Linked DNA regions of Homo sapiens. The protein of the gene in region 1 interacts with the protein of each later gene in a pairwise test. Each region holds a gene or a part of one and is shown in the gene's direction. Other genes may lie near its edges.

What was found. The genes of interacting proteins can lie anywhere in the genome.
Region 2: the proteins of STOM (region 1) and THSD7B interact in binary tests that used the Homo sapiens proteins (3 or more experiments, as listed by UniProt).

The regions. Positions count from the first base shown.
Region 1 is NC_000009.12:121,345,172-121,354,471, reverse strand, and holds part of STOM (stomatin), read left to right. Parts: intron 1-1,169; coding exon 1,170-1,252; intron 1,253-5,148; coding exon 5,149-5,352; intron 5,353-6,322; coding exon 6,323-6,457; intron 6,458-9,300. UniProt on the Homo sapiens protein: Regulates ion channel activity and transmembrane ion transport. Regulates ASIC2 and ASIC3 channel activity.
Region 2 is NC_000002.12:137,054,395-137,062,544, forward strand, and holds part of THSD7B (thrombospondin type-1 domain-containing protein 7B precursor), read left to right. Parts: intron 1-2,025; coding exon 2,026-2,836; intron 2,837-8,150.

The DNA.
Region 1 (9,300 bases):
CATGTCTCACTGCAGCCTTGAACTCCTGACCTCAAGCAATCATCCCACCCCAGCTTCCCAAAGCACTAGGATTACAGACGTGAGCCACCGTGCCCAGTCTAAAATTTTTTTATTGACGTGATTTCCCTTATGAGGGCCTCTTCTACTCTGTCTTAGATAAGAGTTCATGTAGCAGGAGTTGTATAACAATAGCAGTGGTTCTAGCCAATCTTTTGTTACCCTTTCCTTCCTACCCTTCCCCTCCCCTTCCCATTTGAGCTGATAAGATTACCACCTAGGCCAAGAACAGTACAGCTATACAAGTTTGAGCATGAGAATCTCTACCAAAGAAAGACTTTCAGTCATTCATTTGGCAAACTTCAATTAAGCTCCTACTGTGTTCCAGGTTCTGGGAATTCAAGGGAGACTAAAACACAGTCCCTACCCTCAAGGATCTTCCTATCTAGTGGTAGGAACCAACAAGGAAACAGATAGCTACAATCCTATGTGATAAGTATTATGATCAAGTACTCACAGAGAGCTGTGAGAAAAGAGAAAACCAGAGAAGTGTTACTGATCTGAACTAGTCGTAGGCTGAGTCAAGGCTTTCTGGAAGTTACATCTTGACTGAGTCTTGAGGTCTGAAAAGGTGTTAACCAACAGGAGGTGTTTGCGGCGGAAATAGCAACATACACAAAGCAACAAAGAGGAGAGTATTGCAGATTCAAGAAACTGCAAGTAGATCAGTCCAGCAAGAGTGCAGGGTGTGAAGAGAGAGGAAGTGGCTGAAGAGGGGAACAAAGGCGGGTTATGCAGGACCATGCGTGGGGGAGGGTTTGTATTTTAGGGGGGATTGCTCGGCTTGCAGCTTAGGAAATAGATTATAGGAGAGAAACTACAAAAAATAGAAAGATGGCCTGGGAAACGATTGCATTGGTCCCAGTGGGGCGGTGGGGAGAAGAGTGATAGCAACAGTAGATTAAGGAAATGAACTCCACAGACCTTAGTGGAGACAGTCAAATGTGGGAAGTAAGCAAGAGGAATCAAAGTTATCATTCCTGGCTTCTGGCTCATTCACGAAGATGAACTGGTGACTTTTCAGTTCACTAGGTTGATTTTCTTAAAACTGAATGGAGAAGTGAACTGATTAGGTTGCTGGTGTCTGTATAATGTGTGTATCTTTGTTGCAGGTTTGTTTTTTATTCTGCCATGCACTGACAGCTTCATCAAAGTGGACATGAGAACTATTTCATTTGATATTCCTCCTCAGGAGGTAAGGTTTTCTTTGAATAACTGAGGTATCATATGTGAAAGTGCTTTACAATGAGGGACAGAATAGTTAGAGTGTAGGCTTTATTTATTTATTTATTTTAAATTTTTGTTTGTTTGTTTGTTTGTTTTAATTGGAATCTTGCTCTGTCACCCAGGCTGAAGTGCAGTAGTGTGATCTCAGCTCACTGCAACCTCCGCCGCCTGGGTTCAAGTGATTCTCGTGCCTCAGCCTCCCGAGTAGCTGAGACTATAGATGTGCGCCACCACGCCCGGCTAATTTTTTTGTATTTTTAGTAGACACGGGATTTTGCCATGTTGGCCAGGCTGGTCTCGAACTCCTGACCTCAGGTGATCCGTTCTGGCCTCCTAAAGTGCTGGGATTACAGGCATGAGCCACCGTTCCCTGCCAGAGCACAGGCTTTAGACCTTGACTGCCTTCAGCATTTCTAGCTCAGTGACCTTAAGCAAGTTCTTTAACTTTTCTGTGCCTCAGTTTCCTCATCCAGAAAATAGACATTTGTAATAGTAAGAACTACTGTATAAGGTGGTTCTGAGAAGTGAGATATATGTGCCAAGTGCTTAGAGCAATGGCTGACAAATAGTAAGTGCTATATAAGTTCTTACTGTTACTATTACAGTTGGCCCTTTGCATGCATGGGTTTTGCATACAGGGATTCAGCCAACCGCAGACTGAAAATATTAGGAAAAAACTCCACAAAGTTCCAAAAAGCAAAACTTGAATTTGCCATGCATCAAGCATGGCATTGAATCCACATGAATAAAGTGATGTGTAGGTATTGTATTGGATAATAGAAGTAATCTAGAGATGATTTAAAGTGTACAGGAAAATGTACATAGATTATACGGTTGGCTCCATGGATCAAAAATATTTAGGGAAAAAAGCAATTGACAATGATACAATAATACAAATTTTTAAAAACGGTGTAGTATAGCAACTATTTATGTAGTATTTACATTGTGTTAAGTATTATAAGTACTTCAGAAAGGATTTAATGTATAAAGGAGGATGTGCATAAGTTATATGCAAATATTGTGCCACTGTATATAAGAGACTTGAGCATCCTTGGATTTTGGTATCCTCTGAGGGTCCTAGAATCAATCTCCCACAGATACCGAGGAATGATTATTACAAAACATAGTGTAATGCTAATGTAAGTATAATAATATCATCATTGTTATTACTATCAACATTTTTACTACCACATTTCTCTTCTATGGGTTTCTGATAGAAAACCCTATTAGTTCATTATTTTTTTTCTTAAGGTTTTATTCTAGATAAATTGGTTAGAAACCAAAGAATTAGAAACTGCTTGTTGGGCATTTTAGATAAAACATAATATTTTATACTAGTGATTATTTTGTGCCTTTTCAAACTACTTCACAAGTATTATCATAGATGAAACTCATGGCAGAATCCCTAGAAAGTATATAGTTGCAGTGAAACAAAGGAATTCCTCCAGATTACAGTGGCAGAGCCAAGACTAAAATTGAGCTCTTCGGATTCTTTGTATAGTGCTGTTTTTTCCACAGCTCCATGCTAAATGCATTGTACATGAGCTCCCTCATAGCCCCCGAAAAAGTGATGGCCATCCTGGGAACCATGTCCTTAGGAGACTTAATAACCGTTGCATACAGAAAACCTGAAAACATCATGAAGGGGGAAGGACAGAAGAATGCTGTCAGTGTTTCCTGGCCAAAGGCCAGATACTCAGCATGGTGATGGAGCCTGGCCATGTTGCCTTCTCATGTCACAAATACCAGAAACCAGCTTAGGAACTTCCTTGTTGGTACTGATCCAAGAAGTGGGTGGGGTCAGACTTTATAATCCACCCAAAGTTAGTGATGCCAGGAATCATTTTGCCCACATTTTACTCATAAGAACAAGACTGAGAGTATCACTGTATTCTCTGTGTGTTTTCCCATCGTCTAAGGAAGATTGAGTCTCAGAAGGAGCCCTTCAGGGTAGCTGGACATTCTGGCATTTTCCACTATAAACATTACAGACATCTGGCAGAGTTGCTGTTTAAGCTTCTGCTTTCCAGTGGCCCTCTCCTATTCTGCAAGCTGCTGAATGCAAAGCAGATTGGAACTTGGCAGCAATCCTTTTTCTGATCCCCTGTGAAGTTTCTGTGAAGGGAGATAAACCCTTGCCGATGATAAACAGTAGGCAGAGAAGCTGTAGCTTTAGAAAGAAGCTGTGGCAAAGTCAAAGTGGCAAGAATTTGGGAATGACACACATTTTCCCATCATGTCATGGGAAATAATTAGTTTTCATACAAGATGGTAATACACTGTACATTTATTTATAAATCCTCCACTTCTCTTCCATGTTAGAAGTATTTTGAGATTACTAAAAAAGGATCACTGCTTTGATGTCTGGCAGGGCTAAACAGCCATGTTACAACATTGTTATTATTACCTTCCATTTTCATAGCTGTTTACTCTTTCAAAAGGGCTTCATTCACAAGTATGTTCTTATTTGATCTTCACAGAAATTTGGATAGAATTAGGCAGTATTATTAGCGCCATCTCACAAATGAGGAATCTGTTGGTCAAATGGGTTAAAAACCTTGCTAGAGGCCATCCAGGGACCTGAAGGCAGAGATGGGACTCAGTTCAGGTCTCCTAACTCTCACTGCTGTGTTCCTCATCGGTCACTGTTCTCAGGACCACATTTCAGTTCAGCTCCTCTCTCATTTATTGACTACCCGCTATGTTTCAAGCACTCTGCCAGTGTTAGAGTTACAAAGAATTGCCCTGAAGAAATTCATAGTCTAAGAGAGAAGTAGAAATGTGAATAAATAATGTCACTACAGTAAGGTGCAGTGGATGTGCAAGGGAAGAGTGCTTAACTCTGCCAAGTAAGCCAAGAAAGTTTCACAGAGAGAAGGACATTTAAATGATCAGTAGAAAGGTGCCAGCCTGATGTTGTTAGTGAGAGAGGCTGGAATTCCCAGGCTGGAGCAATCTTCCTGCCTCAGCCTCCTGAGTGGCTGAAACTACAGGTGTATGCCATCATGCCCAGCTGGCTTGTTTATTATTATCTAAATTAACTTATTACAGTTAATCAAGTCAGTGTTTTATTCAGTAAAGTTACCACCATTATCCAAGATGAAATAATAAGACAGCTCTTACGTGCCAGGAACTTTTCTGAGCACTTGAATGTATTTAACGCATTAATTCTAGCAAGAATGCAAAGTAGGTACTATAATTAATCTCTACTTTACAAATGAGAAAACTGAGTCCCAGTGAGTTTTAAGTGATGGATGTAACTATTTTCCTGGAGCCTCTCACTCAGATAACTTCTTAGCTTAAAACAAAAATATGTCATGTTTAGCATTTTTATGTAGCATGCTGTAAAATATGTTTTGATGCTGACCTTGCCCTTTAAAAACATTCCCCATGCACTTTTTGTTCCAGTAATATTGTGGAACTTGTAGTTTATCAAACCTTGACTCTCTAGTGCCTCTCTCTTGAATATTCTTCCACTCCACCCAACACCCTCAGAAAAATTGTATTCCTTTCTTCAAGATTCAATTCAGGTATCACCCCTGCCACCCACAGCTGCCCCTAAGAGTTTCCTTTGATTCCCTAACCTCCTTCAAAGGAGGAACCAAGTTTTTTTCCTACCTTAATCCCTGGTACCTAGTACAGTGCCTGCTGTTGAGTGATATCTCAATATTATTTGTATGATTGAATGAATTAATGGACTTGAATAATTTATTTTATTAAATTTTAAAAGATATAATTAACTTTCTGATGCCTTACTAAAGAAAATCAGCTAGTGTTATAAGATATTCTGTAGAATAACATTCCTTACAGTTATGTTAAAAAAAAGTCGTTGACAGATGTAAAATTGCTTCCTTCATCTTGTAGATCCTCACAAAGGATTCAGTGACAATTAGCGTGGATGGTGTGGTCTATTACCGCGTTCAGAATGCAACCCTGGCTGTGGCAAATATCACCAACGCTGACTCAGCAACCCGTCTTTTGGCACAAACTACTCTGAGGAATGTTCTGGGCACCAAGAATCTTTCTCAGATCCTCTCTGACAGAGAAGAAATTGCACACAACATGCAGGTGGGGAGTACGTCAATGCTGTTACCCCCCAGAAGCTGAAAAATGAAGCAAAGAGTCAATGGTTGTTTGAGAACCTTTTATTAATTCAAGTTGTGGGGGTCTGTGACCGTTTTTTTTTCTTCATAGTAAAATTTTTCAAATTTGGCAGGAGGGGACATTTTTCACATTAGCAGTTCATGAGTTCATAACACTCATGCGTACATTTTTTTAAAATTTTCTTCAGTGTGTATTTTTTTCCAGAATCAGTAATAACCTTTTTGTTTAGAACAGAGGCTATTCTGCAAGATAGTGTAGGTATTCCTAAAGCTTTATTCTGTGTGTGAGTCCCATGAATTATAACTGTTGTGCTTTCCAGTCTTTCTTGAGTAACAGATATTCAGTTAAGCATAGCTTATTCAAAAAAGATAAAGTGCTATAACTCTGGATTCTTATTATTTGTATAGACTTCATCGTGGGTAAAATCTATGATTGTATTTGATATGCACAACAACCTATGAAATAGATGTGTGGTTTCATTCCTGACATTCTAAAGGGAGGAAGTTGAAGCACAAAGGAGTAATATGACTTACACAGAGTCACATTAGCTCAGGAGTTGGCAAACTGTAGCCTACAGGCTGTAGTTTTTGTAAGTAAAGTTTGACTGGAGTATAGCCACAGCCATTTATTTATATATTATCCATGGCTGCTTTTGACTACAACAGCTGGGTTAAATAGTTGAGACAGAGACTACAAATAAACAATCACTATATGGCCCTTTTAGAAGAAGCTGCTAACCCCTGCATTAGCTTGTTAGCAACAGAATCAGGATCAGTGAGCCAGCCCCTGCGTCACCATTCGTTCCACCGTGGGGTAACTGTCTCTCCACAACTCTCCCCAGCACCTTATCTCCTCCAAATCCCAATGAATACAGCCTCTGTCAGCATCTGGGCTGGGCTGAGGAGATTTAGCTTGCCTTCTCTCTTCCTAACAGTCTACTCTGGATGATGCCACTGATGCCTGGGGAATAAAGGTGGAGCGTGTGGAAATTAAGGATGTGAAACTACCTGTGCAGCTCCAGAGAGCTATGGCTGCAGAAGCAGAAGCGTCCCGCGAGGCCCGCGCCAAGGTAACTTTTTTTTTAAACTTGTTTTTCTTACTGAGTTTTCTCTTTTATTAATAATTATAAAAAAACGTAAAACATGCTTGCTGTAAAAACTTGAAATAATCTTGAAGTGGTAAAGTTAGAAGTGAAAACCCTCCCCGTAACTTCAAATCATATTCCCCCAGAGGTCACCACTCCTAACAGTTGAGTGTATTTGGATTTTATTTGACCAGGTTTTTGGATTACTGGCTTGTTTGTTTTACAAAAGTAGGGTTATACTGCACATGTTGTTCTGCGCTCTGCTTTTTTCATTTAATATTAATATCTATGGACGTATCAGTACATGTAGAGTTACCTCATTCTTTTATGACTGTGTGTACCATACTTATTCTCCCGATTCCATATTAAGGTCAAATTAACAGTTCCAACTTCGGAGCAAGTGGGTCATCATTCCATCCATACCACCCATCTCTTACTTATTTTTGGCTTCTTTTTTGTTCTGTTTCTTTTCTCAGGCTCTTTTTCCCTTTTACTGTTTCCTATTCCTCATTCTCTCTTTTCCTCTTGTTTATATTCTCTTACTTTGACATCTGCCTTTTTTCTTCCTTCTTTTCATCATCATCTGCCTATGTCTTAACCCTGCATGGGTGGCATGGCCCCTCTGGGAGGCACTGAGGAAATATTTGTTAACCTAACCTAGAAAAGAGTATCTTTAAAGATGATAATGTGTAAAATTTCAGGGATATCTCACCAAACCCAAAGGTAGGAAGTAGGGGCAAGTCTCACCAAAATTGGAACCAGAAGGCAGTTCAGGGAACTAGTCATTCCCTTTCCTGTGCCACATCTCACTGTAGATAGCTTGTGGTGGAGAATGTCTAGCTCCCAGGTTTAGATGTCTGCCAGGTGAACACTAAAGAACACAGACCAGCCCTAATTCCACATTCACAGAAGAGACAGTCTTTTTGGTCCAACTTTGGTCAAAGTGCAAAGATAGCATAATAATATGGTTCCACAGCCCTATGCCTGTGAATGGGCTGAAGAAGAAGAGCAGTTTTCATAGGAGGAGTTGCTGTGGACTTGACAAATCTCCCAAGACACAAGGAGCAAACCAATTTGTTGTTAGAAAATAGTAGTAGCTGGTCATCACTGGCTGACCACAGAACGCTGTTCTTTTCTTAGGATGCCCTTTAAGCCACAAACTGGTCACTATAATTTCTTAGCCAGCATCAAATAGGATAGTAGCTCATTTGACATGCGACTTCAGAATTTTGCATTAACCAAAATGTTTAGGTTTTCCTGGTATGATGATTGTTGCTTTGTGATGATAACCTGGTAGTACTACAGAACCCTCTAGTGCTTTCTTTCAAAACTGTTACGTTTAGAAGATTAAATTATGTTTACGATGTTATTAAATGTGCCCTATCATCTCCTTATTTTGAAAATTAGGAATTGCTTTTAACTAGAATATGTTATTAGGCAAAAGCCTCATTTCCAAACCAGATTGAATAGTAGAATGTACCATACATATACTACGTAGAATGTCAGAGCCCAAAGGATCCTCAGAGATTATCTTCCATAGGTGGCAAACACTTAGCCCAGATGCTAGCACTCCATCCTGCTATTCCCATGCTAGTAATTAACCACAGCACTGTTTTCCTCTGAGCTTAGACTTGGCCTCAGAACCCTTCTATAGCACTCTGGGTAACAACCCTCAACTGCTTAGAGTTAGCTCTAAAAAACAAAACTTGAGGCCAAGCACAGTGGCTCACGTCTGTAATCCCAGCACTTTGGGAGGCTGAGGTGGGTGGATCACCTGAGGTGAGGAGTTCAAGACCAGCCTGGCCACCATGGTGAAACCCCGTCCTTACTAAAAATACAAAGAGTAGCCTGGTGTGGTGGTAGGCGCCTGTAATCCCAGCTACTGGGGAGGCTGAGAAGGAGAATTGCTTGAACCCTGGAGGTGGAGGTTGCAGTGAGCTGAGATTGCGCCACTGCACTTCAGCCCAGGCGACAGAGCAAGACTTCTTCTCAAAAAAATTAAATTAAATAAAAAATTAATAATAATAAAAACTTAAAAAAAAATGAAACTTGTTTGCCATCCCACTATTCAAAGGAAAAATTGAAGCTCTGAAAAGTTAAGTGACGTCCGCAAGGTCGCACAGTTGATTAGTAGCAGTGGAAATTAGAATTCCCCTCTGCTCCTCATTGCCTCCTCTAGTACTGACTTCCCAGGATGGGCTATGAGCCTCTTCCATAGCATTCTTAAGAGTTTGGAAAGAAAATTTCTATCTTCCCTTTATAACAGTAAGAAAAGATAGAAGAAACCGCTTAGAATTCTGAATTGCCATGCTCCCACTTGGACGGGGCTGTAGGGTTAGTCTAGAAGCAGTCTCATGAACCTGGGCAGTGACTGTCTTGGAGTTCACACATAGAATCACAATGAGCCTAGCCCTTCTGTAAAATACAGTAACCCTGCAACAACCATAGGCTTATTGTATTGAAATTCTCATGGAAAATAGGGGGGTCACAGTTTCTTCAACAAATAAATTGCACAGGAAAGGTGAGATAGAGTGGAATAATCTAAAGATTAAGAGACTTTATAGAAAAATTCCTTAGGCTAATTAGCCATCGGGGAAATGCAAATTCACATTATAAGCGGATGTCACACTAGACAGCTATCAGAATGGCCTGAAAAGAACGGAAAAGAACCAAGTGTGGGTGAGAGAGGAACTAGAACTCTCATATTCTGCTGGTGGCAGTGTAACTTAATACAACCACTGTGGAAAACAGTCTGGCAATGTCTATTCATACTGAACATTTGTATACCCTATGAGCCAGCAGCTCCAACTCCTAAGTATGAATCTAAC
Region 2 (8,150 bases), on another chromosome or scaffold:
ATGGCTAGAACAGGGATGTGAGGAAGAATTGAGATGATTAGTTGCATTAGAACCGGACCCTTTTGTCCTACTAAAGTGACAGATCCTCATTTTAGTGTGTGGCCCCAGTGCAGATAACCTGCTTCTCTGGGGATGTATATGTTTCTTCCTAAATGCATGTGATTACGTACATGTCTACTATTTGTACAAATGTAGTGGATGCTAATGAAAATATTTTTCATGGAGTAATTAAACATCATTTGGGGAAGCTGGTCAGATTCAGGGAAAGAGAGAGAGCTTGTGTAAATTCATATGCCTCTTAGGGTCTGAAGTGCCTTATGATCATCACAGTCCTGAGACAGGGGCAAAGGTACCTAGTTAAGCTGATAAAACTTTTTTTTTTTTTTAATTTTAAGTTCTGGGATATGTGTGCTGAACATGCAGGTTTGTTACATAGGTATACATGTGCCATGGTGGTTTGCTGCACCTGTCAACCCATCATCTAGGTTTTAAGCCCCGCATGCATTAGGTATTCGTCTTAATGCTCTCCCCACCCTTGCCCCCCATACCACGACAGGCCCTGGTGGGTGATATTCCCCTCCCTGTGTCCATGTGTTCTCATTGTTCAACTCCCACTTATGAGTGAGAACATGCAGTGTTTGGTTTTCTATTCCTGTGTTCGTTTGCTGAGGATGATGGTTTCCAGCTTCATCCACGTCCCTGTGAAGGACATGAACTCATTCTTTTTTATGGCTGCATAGTATTCCATGGTGTACGTGTGCCACATTTTCTTTATCCGGTCTATAATTGATGGGCATTTGGGTTGGTTCCAAGTCTTTGCTATTGTGAATAGTGCTGCAATAAACATACGTGTGCATGTGTCTTTATAGTAGAATGATTTATAATCCTTTGGGATCAATCCTTTATACCCAGTAATGAGATTGCTGGGTTGAATGGTATTTCTGGTTCTAGATCCTTGAGGAATCACCACACTGTCTTTCACTATGGTTGAACTAATTTACACTCCCACCAACAGGTTCAGATTACATATTTAAATAAAATGAAAGAGAAGAAACTATTTTTTTCATTGTTGTTGACACAAAATGTGATTACTTACTGTCCTTGTGAAAAGATACCAACTTTCTGGATAAGGCCTGCTGGTATGTCTGTAGATGAGATGCAAAAAATATGATAAACGTCAATGGGCAGCTCCCTCATCTGTCCATTTCTTGGACTCTTACCTACACAAATGAATTAGTTAATTAAAAGATCTGGCATATTACAAGCTAATGTTGGAAACTGTACCTGGATCAGTACCCATCAGAAATCAAAATGAGTACACTTCAAGGATTCTAGGGGCAGAATTTCCACAGACAATTCAGTGCTGCTGCTTCTCTTATTACCTTACCTTTCCCCTGCACCCCATTGTTATTTTCATGCAATTCTCTCTGCAAGTACTAACCAAAACTGAGGACAATTATTTTGAAAATGAAAATAGGATACTTTGGCAACTTAGGGTGTTAAACATATCTCTCTTCTGAGCTTCTTAGAGTTTGAGCTGAAAGACTGGAAATATGAAAAATTCTACTTTATTAAAATCCTGGCTTTAGGGCTTTTCTTTTGAATGAAACACCACCTCAGTGGAAAGTATTAATATTGAGTTAGATGTATAGGCTTTGGAACGTAGTAGTTATAATGGTACCAATCATTTATTAAATTTGTATTGTCTACTTGACACATTGTATCATTTATCTTCAGAGCAATTCTACAAGTCGGTGCTTTTATTATCTTCTACCTTATATAGGTGAGGAACTTTCTAAGGCTTAGAAAGTTGAAATAATTCATCCAAGTTTACATTACTGATGGAATGCTTATTTCAACAAGAGTGTCCACATTCTGAACCACTAAATTATGTTGTCTCTGTTCCACCAAAATTCCTAATTTCATACTGCTTGTGTTGGAAAGTGTGTTAATTGACTTCTACTTACCTGTGAATTGCTGAATGTAATCTCTGAGTAATTAACATCCTTGTTTTTCTGCCTGTAGGTCCGTGGGGAAGGTGTACAGGAGACTGTGGTCCCGGAGGAGTCCAGAGTCGGGCAGTGTGGTGTTTTCATGTTGACGGGTGGACAAGTCACCTGTCTAACTGTGGTGAGAGCAACAGGCCTCCAAAGGAAAGAAGTTGTTTCCGAGTTTGTGACTGGCACAGTGACCTCTTTCAGTGGGAGGTTTCTGACTGGCACCACTGTGTGCTTGTTCCTTACGCTCGCGGTGAAGTCAAGCCTCGGACTGCAGAGTGTGTGACGGCTCAGCATGGACTGCAGCACCGGATGGTGCGCTGCATTCAGAAGCTGAACCGAACTGTGGTTGCAAATGAAATATGCGAACACTTTGCCCTTCAGCCTCCTACAGAACAGGCTTGCCTCATTCCTTGTCCCCGGGATTGTGTAGTATCTGAGTTCTTACCATGGTCCAACTGTAGCAAGGGATGTGGGAAGAAATTGCAGCATAGAACTCGCGCGGTCATAGCTCCCCCTCTCTTTGGTGGTTTGCAATGTCCAAATCTGACTGAGTCAAGAGCCTGTGATGCTCCCATTTCCTGTCCTCTTGGGGAAGAGGAATATACATTTAGCCTTAAGGTTGGACCATGGAGTAAATGCAGACTGCCTCATCTTAAAGAAATTAATCCAAGCGGAAGAACTGTTCTGGATTTTAACTCTGATTCAAATGAGCGAGTCACCTTTAAACATCAAAGTTACAAAGCACATCATCATTCGAAGTCTTGGGCAATAGAGATAGGTTATCAAACCCGGCAGGTTTCGTGTACAAGAAGTGATGGACAAAATGCTATGTTAAGGTAGGAGACCTTTGATGCTTGAATTTGATTCACCTAAAATATTTTATAGTGCAACTTTATAAAGCTTCTTTATGATTTTCTACAAAGCGAAAATGGCAACGAGGTTTATAATTTAGGTTTTTAGAAGTTTCATGTAAGAAATTTTTAATTTCACTGGGAGGTTTTCAAAATTGCATAGTTTAGACCAAGCAGTGTTCTAGCATTCTTGTGTGATTAGTAATGCAATTATATATATAGGATAAGTCATATATTTCCACATTTTATCAAGACAGTAACTAGTATAAAAATAGATCTGCCATTACAACAGTGATAGAAGACTAAGGGGCTTCTCATAATGATAAAAATTCAAGTTCAATTTCAAATGTGGGATATGAATTATGTAAATATTTTTGTTTTTCAGAACATTTGTCCTTTAAAATTTTATTTTTGTTTTTATTTGTTTACTTTTGTTTCCACTGTTATCAACATTCTTTGACATCTGTGTTGTACATTTTTTATACTAGCAATAATACCGAAAAGTTGTTCCAAGAGTGCTTTCTTTGGCGTTATTTTGATACAGGTATTAACTTGCGCAAGCAGTAATTAGAATGACGTACTGGAGAAGAAATAAACTATTAAAGCAACAGCTTAGGTTTCAAATTTATGCTTGTTTTATTTTAAATTGTAGTCTAAAACATCATGACATAAACTCACAGAAATATATTGAAAGTAGTATTTGTTTAATTTTACCTCAGAGGGTCTTAAATGAAGCATTTGTGTATTACTAAGTTTCTTCCAAATTAAGATGCCTTTCAATAGTACTTAAATTACCAAACAACATAATGCTTGTCTTTAGAATTAATCATTCTCATCAGTTGCTGCCTTCTTGGGATCCACAGCTGACCAGGAGATGCCCAGAAGACTACCACTGTTGTTTATGAACAAAGTAATGTGATGATTGTTTTTTTTTCCATTTGACTTCACAAATGAGTATATTTTATCCTTGATACTTCATTCTGATTTGTGCCATATGAAATTAGCAAGTCCACTGAAGAGTGATTTGCAGCTTTTTATTGCCTACTTCTTTGAAGTCCAGATTAAGCAAAAGATTCATGCAATTTGTTTGAATGTGTGTGGGGTTGTGTAAATACATTGTTTTCTTAATATTCCGTACTGTATTGCTGAAGTGAGCATTACATAGAATCTTTTCATTTTGTTTGTGCATTTTTGCAGTGTTTTTCTTTTTTTAATAGACTTGATTTTTCAGATCAATTTTTAAATTTTCAGAAAAAATGAGTGAAAGTACTGAGTTCCTGTATACTCCCTGTCTCCAACATATAGTTTTTTCCTATTATTAACATCTTGCATTCATGTGATAGTTTCATAAACAAACATTTCATAGTTACATACACAAACATTGAGTGCATAACACAGTTCAAATTGTGTTCCCCTCCCCAAATTTATGTATCGAAATTCTAACCATGAGTGTAATGTTTTTAGGAGGCATGGGGCCTTTGGGAGGTAATTATGTCGTGATGATGCAGTTCTCATAGATGGGATTAGTGCGCCATGAGAGCTTCCTCTCACTCTTTTTCTGCCATTTGAGGATACAATGTGAAGTCAGCAGTCTGCAAGCCAGAAGAGAGAACCCACCAGAATGTGACTATGCTGGTACCCTGGTCTCAGACTTCCAGCCTCTAGAACTGTGAGAAATAGATTTCTGTTGTTTTTTAAGCCATCCAGCTTCTGGTACTTTGTTATAGCAGCTTGAATTGCCGAAGACTAACTGTTATAAAAATAAATACCATAGTTTGGGAATTTAAATGAGAAATTTATTTCCACAGTTCTGGAGGCTGGAAAGTCCAAATTCAAGGTGTGTCTTGATTTAGTTCGTGATGAAGGTTGTCTTCTTGTCTTAAAGATGGCCATCTTCTTGCTGTGTCCTCACATGGTGGGGGAGAGAGAGAAAAAAAGAGAGCACTCTATGTCTCTTCTTATAAGGTCACCAATCCTATCACAAGGGCTCCACTCTCATGACCTGATTACATTAGAAATTTCCCATATTCAAAATGGAGGTTAGAGTTTCAACATTTGAATTTTGGAGGAACACAATTCAGTGTGCAGCAGGTACATTGGTTACAATTGATGAGCTAATATTGATATATTACTGTTAATAAAGACTATAGTTTACATTAGGATTCATCCTTTGTATTGTACATTCTATTGGTTTGACAAATGAATAATGACATGGATCCACAATTACGGTATCATACAGAGTAGTTTTACTCCCCTAAGTATCCCTTCTACTCTATTTACTCATCCTTCCCTCTCTCCCTGAGAACCCCTGGCAACTACTGACCATTTTACTGACTGTCCCCAAAGTTTTGCCTTTTTAAAAAATGTTATATAGTTAGAATTATATATGTAGCTTTTTCTGGTTGACTTATTTCACTTTGCAATACGCATTTAAGTTTGTTCCATGTCTGTTTGTGACTTGGTAGCTTATTTCTTTTTATCACTGAATAATATTCCATTTTGTGGTACTATAGTTTGTTCATTCACCTACTGAAGTACATCTTGGTTGCTATCAAGTTTTGGCAATTTTGAATAAAGCTGCTATAAAAGTTTATGTGTGTAATTTTTTGTGAACATAGGTTTTCAAGTCATTTGGGTTAATATCAAGTAGTGCAATTGCTGTATGGTATAGCAAGAGTATGTTTAGTTTTGTAAGAAACTGCCCAGCTGTCTTCCAGAATGGCTGTGCCACTTTGCAATGCCACCAGCAATTAGTGGAAGTTCTATTTTGTCACATCACTGGGATTTGTTGTCAGTATTTTGGAGTTTTGCCATTCGAATAGGTGTGTAATGGTATCTCATTGTTTTAAATTGCGATTCCTTAATGACATGTGATGCTGAACATCTTTTCATACACTTGCTTGCCATCTGTATATATTATTTGATAAGGTGTCTATTCAGATGTTTTGTCTATTTTTTAATTGAGTTGTTTTCTTATTGTTGAATTTTAAGAGTTATTTGTATATTTTGGATACCAGTCCTTTATCAGATATGTGTTTTGCAAATATTTTTGACAGTCTATGATTTGTGTTTTCATTTTCTTGATGGTGTTGTTCACAGAGAAAATATTTTTAATTTTAATGAAGTCCAACTTCTCAATATTTTTTCAAGGATCTTTTTTTTTTGGTGTTGTTTAAAAATATCACTAAACCCAAAGTCAACTCAATTTTTCTCTTATATTTTCTTCTACGAGTTGCATAATTTTGTTTATTATATTTAGGTCTATCATTCATTTTGAGGTTTTTTGGTGAAAGGTATAGGGTCTATGTCTGCATTCTTTTTAAAAAAGATTATTATATGTTCAGTTGTTCCAGCACCATTTATTGTAAAGAATATCTTTTCTCTATTGAGTTACCTATGCTTTTTTGACAAAGATCAATTGACTATGTTGATATGAGTCTGTTCTATGCCTTCAATTTTTATTCTATTTTACTATCTATTATTTGTTAGTAACACAATGTTTTGAGTAATGTAGTTTTATAGTAAATTGTAAAGCAGAGAAGTGTCAGTCTTCCTATTTTTTTTCTTCCTATGTGTTGTCTGCAGTGAATCTTTTGCTTTTTCATATAAACTTTGGAACTACTTTTTGATATCCACAAAATAACTTCCAAGATTTTGATTGGGATTGCATGTAATGGAAGATCAATTTGGGAAGAACTAATATATTGATAATACTGAGTCATCCTATTCTGGTACATAGGATATCTCTCCATTTATTTAATTCTTGTTTATTTTGTCAGGGTCTTGGAGGGTTTTTTAAAAAAAATATATCTTGTACATATTGTGTCAGATTTAGATTAATTTACCTTTTTTGGTGCTAACATAAATGGTATTGTGTTTTTAATTTCATATTGCAATTGTGCATTGCTGGTATAATAAGAAAACCGTTAACTTTTTATATTAACCTTGCATCCTGCAACTTTGTTATAGTCACTTATTATCCAGAGATTTTCATTGCTGTAGTTGTTGATTTTTTGAGATTACTTACATAAATAAGCATGTCAGCATGTCATCTGCAAAAAAAAAAGGAAAAATTATTGCTTTCTTTCCAATCTGAATATGTTTTCTTTATTTTATTTTCTTGTCTTCATTAGCCAAGACTTCCAGTACAATGTTATACAGGAGTGATGAGAAAGGACATTCTTTTTTTTTTGTACTGGGAAAGAAATCTATGCTGTCACCATTAAGTGTTTTGTTAGCTATAGGTTTTTTTTTTTTGTAGGTGTTTTGATCAAGTCAAGGAAGTTCCCCTTCATTCTTAGTTTTCTGAGAATTTTCCTTATAAATAATCATTAGATTTTGTTAAATATTTTTTCTGCCTCTATTGATCTGATTATATGATTTTTGTTCATTAGCCTGTTTATGTTATGGATTACATTAATTGATTTTCAAATGTTGAACCAGCCTTGTGTATGTGGAATAAATCCCACTTAGCTGCGACGTAAATTCCTTTTACATAGTGTTGGATTTGACTTGCTAGTATTTTATTGAGACTTATTTCATGTATGTTTATGAGAAATGTTGATCTTTGTTGTCCTTACTTGTAATGTCTTTGTTGTGATGTTAGGGTAATGCTGCCCTCTTCGAATGAATTGGAAAGTATTTTCTGTGCTTTCATTTTCTGAAAGAAATTGTTGAGAATTGGTATAATTTTTCCCTTGAATGTTTGGTAGTGAACCCTCTGGACCTCATGCTTTCTGATTTGGAAAGTTACTAAATACTGGTTTAATTTCTTTTAACAGATTTAGGACTATTCGTATCATCGATTTCTCTTTGTGTGTTTTGCTAGATTTTGTCTTTCAAGGAATTGGCTCATTTCATCTAGATTATCAAATTTAGGGACATAGAGTTGTTCATAATATCCCTTTTTCCTTTTAATAGCTATGGGATTATTAATGATTACCCTTCTTAAGTTTCCAGTATTAATAATTTGTATCCTCTCTTTTTTTTCCTAACCTGGCTAGAGGTTCATTAATTTTATCAGTGCTTTTAAAAACCAGCTTTTGGTTTTGTTGATTTTTTTCTATTGATTTTTTTTCTAATTTCATTGATTTTGACTCTGATTTTATTATTTCTTTTCTTCTGCTTACTTTAGATTTAATTGCTCTTCTTTTTCTAGTTTCCTAAGGTGGAAACTTAGGTTACTCATTTGAGATCTCTCTTCTTTACTATTAGATGCATTCAATTTCCTCAAGCCCTTTCTCTTTGTTCCACAAATTCTGATAATTTGCATTATTTTCATGTAGTTCTAAATATTTTT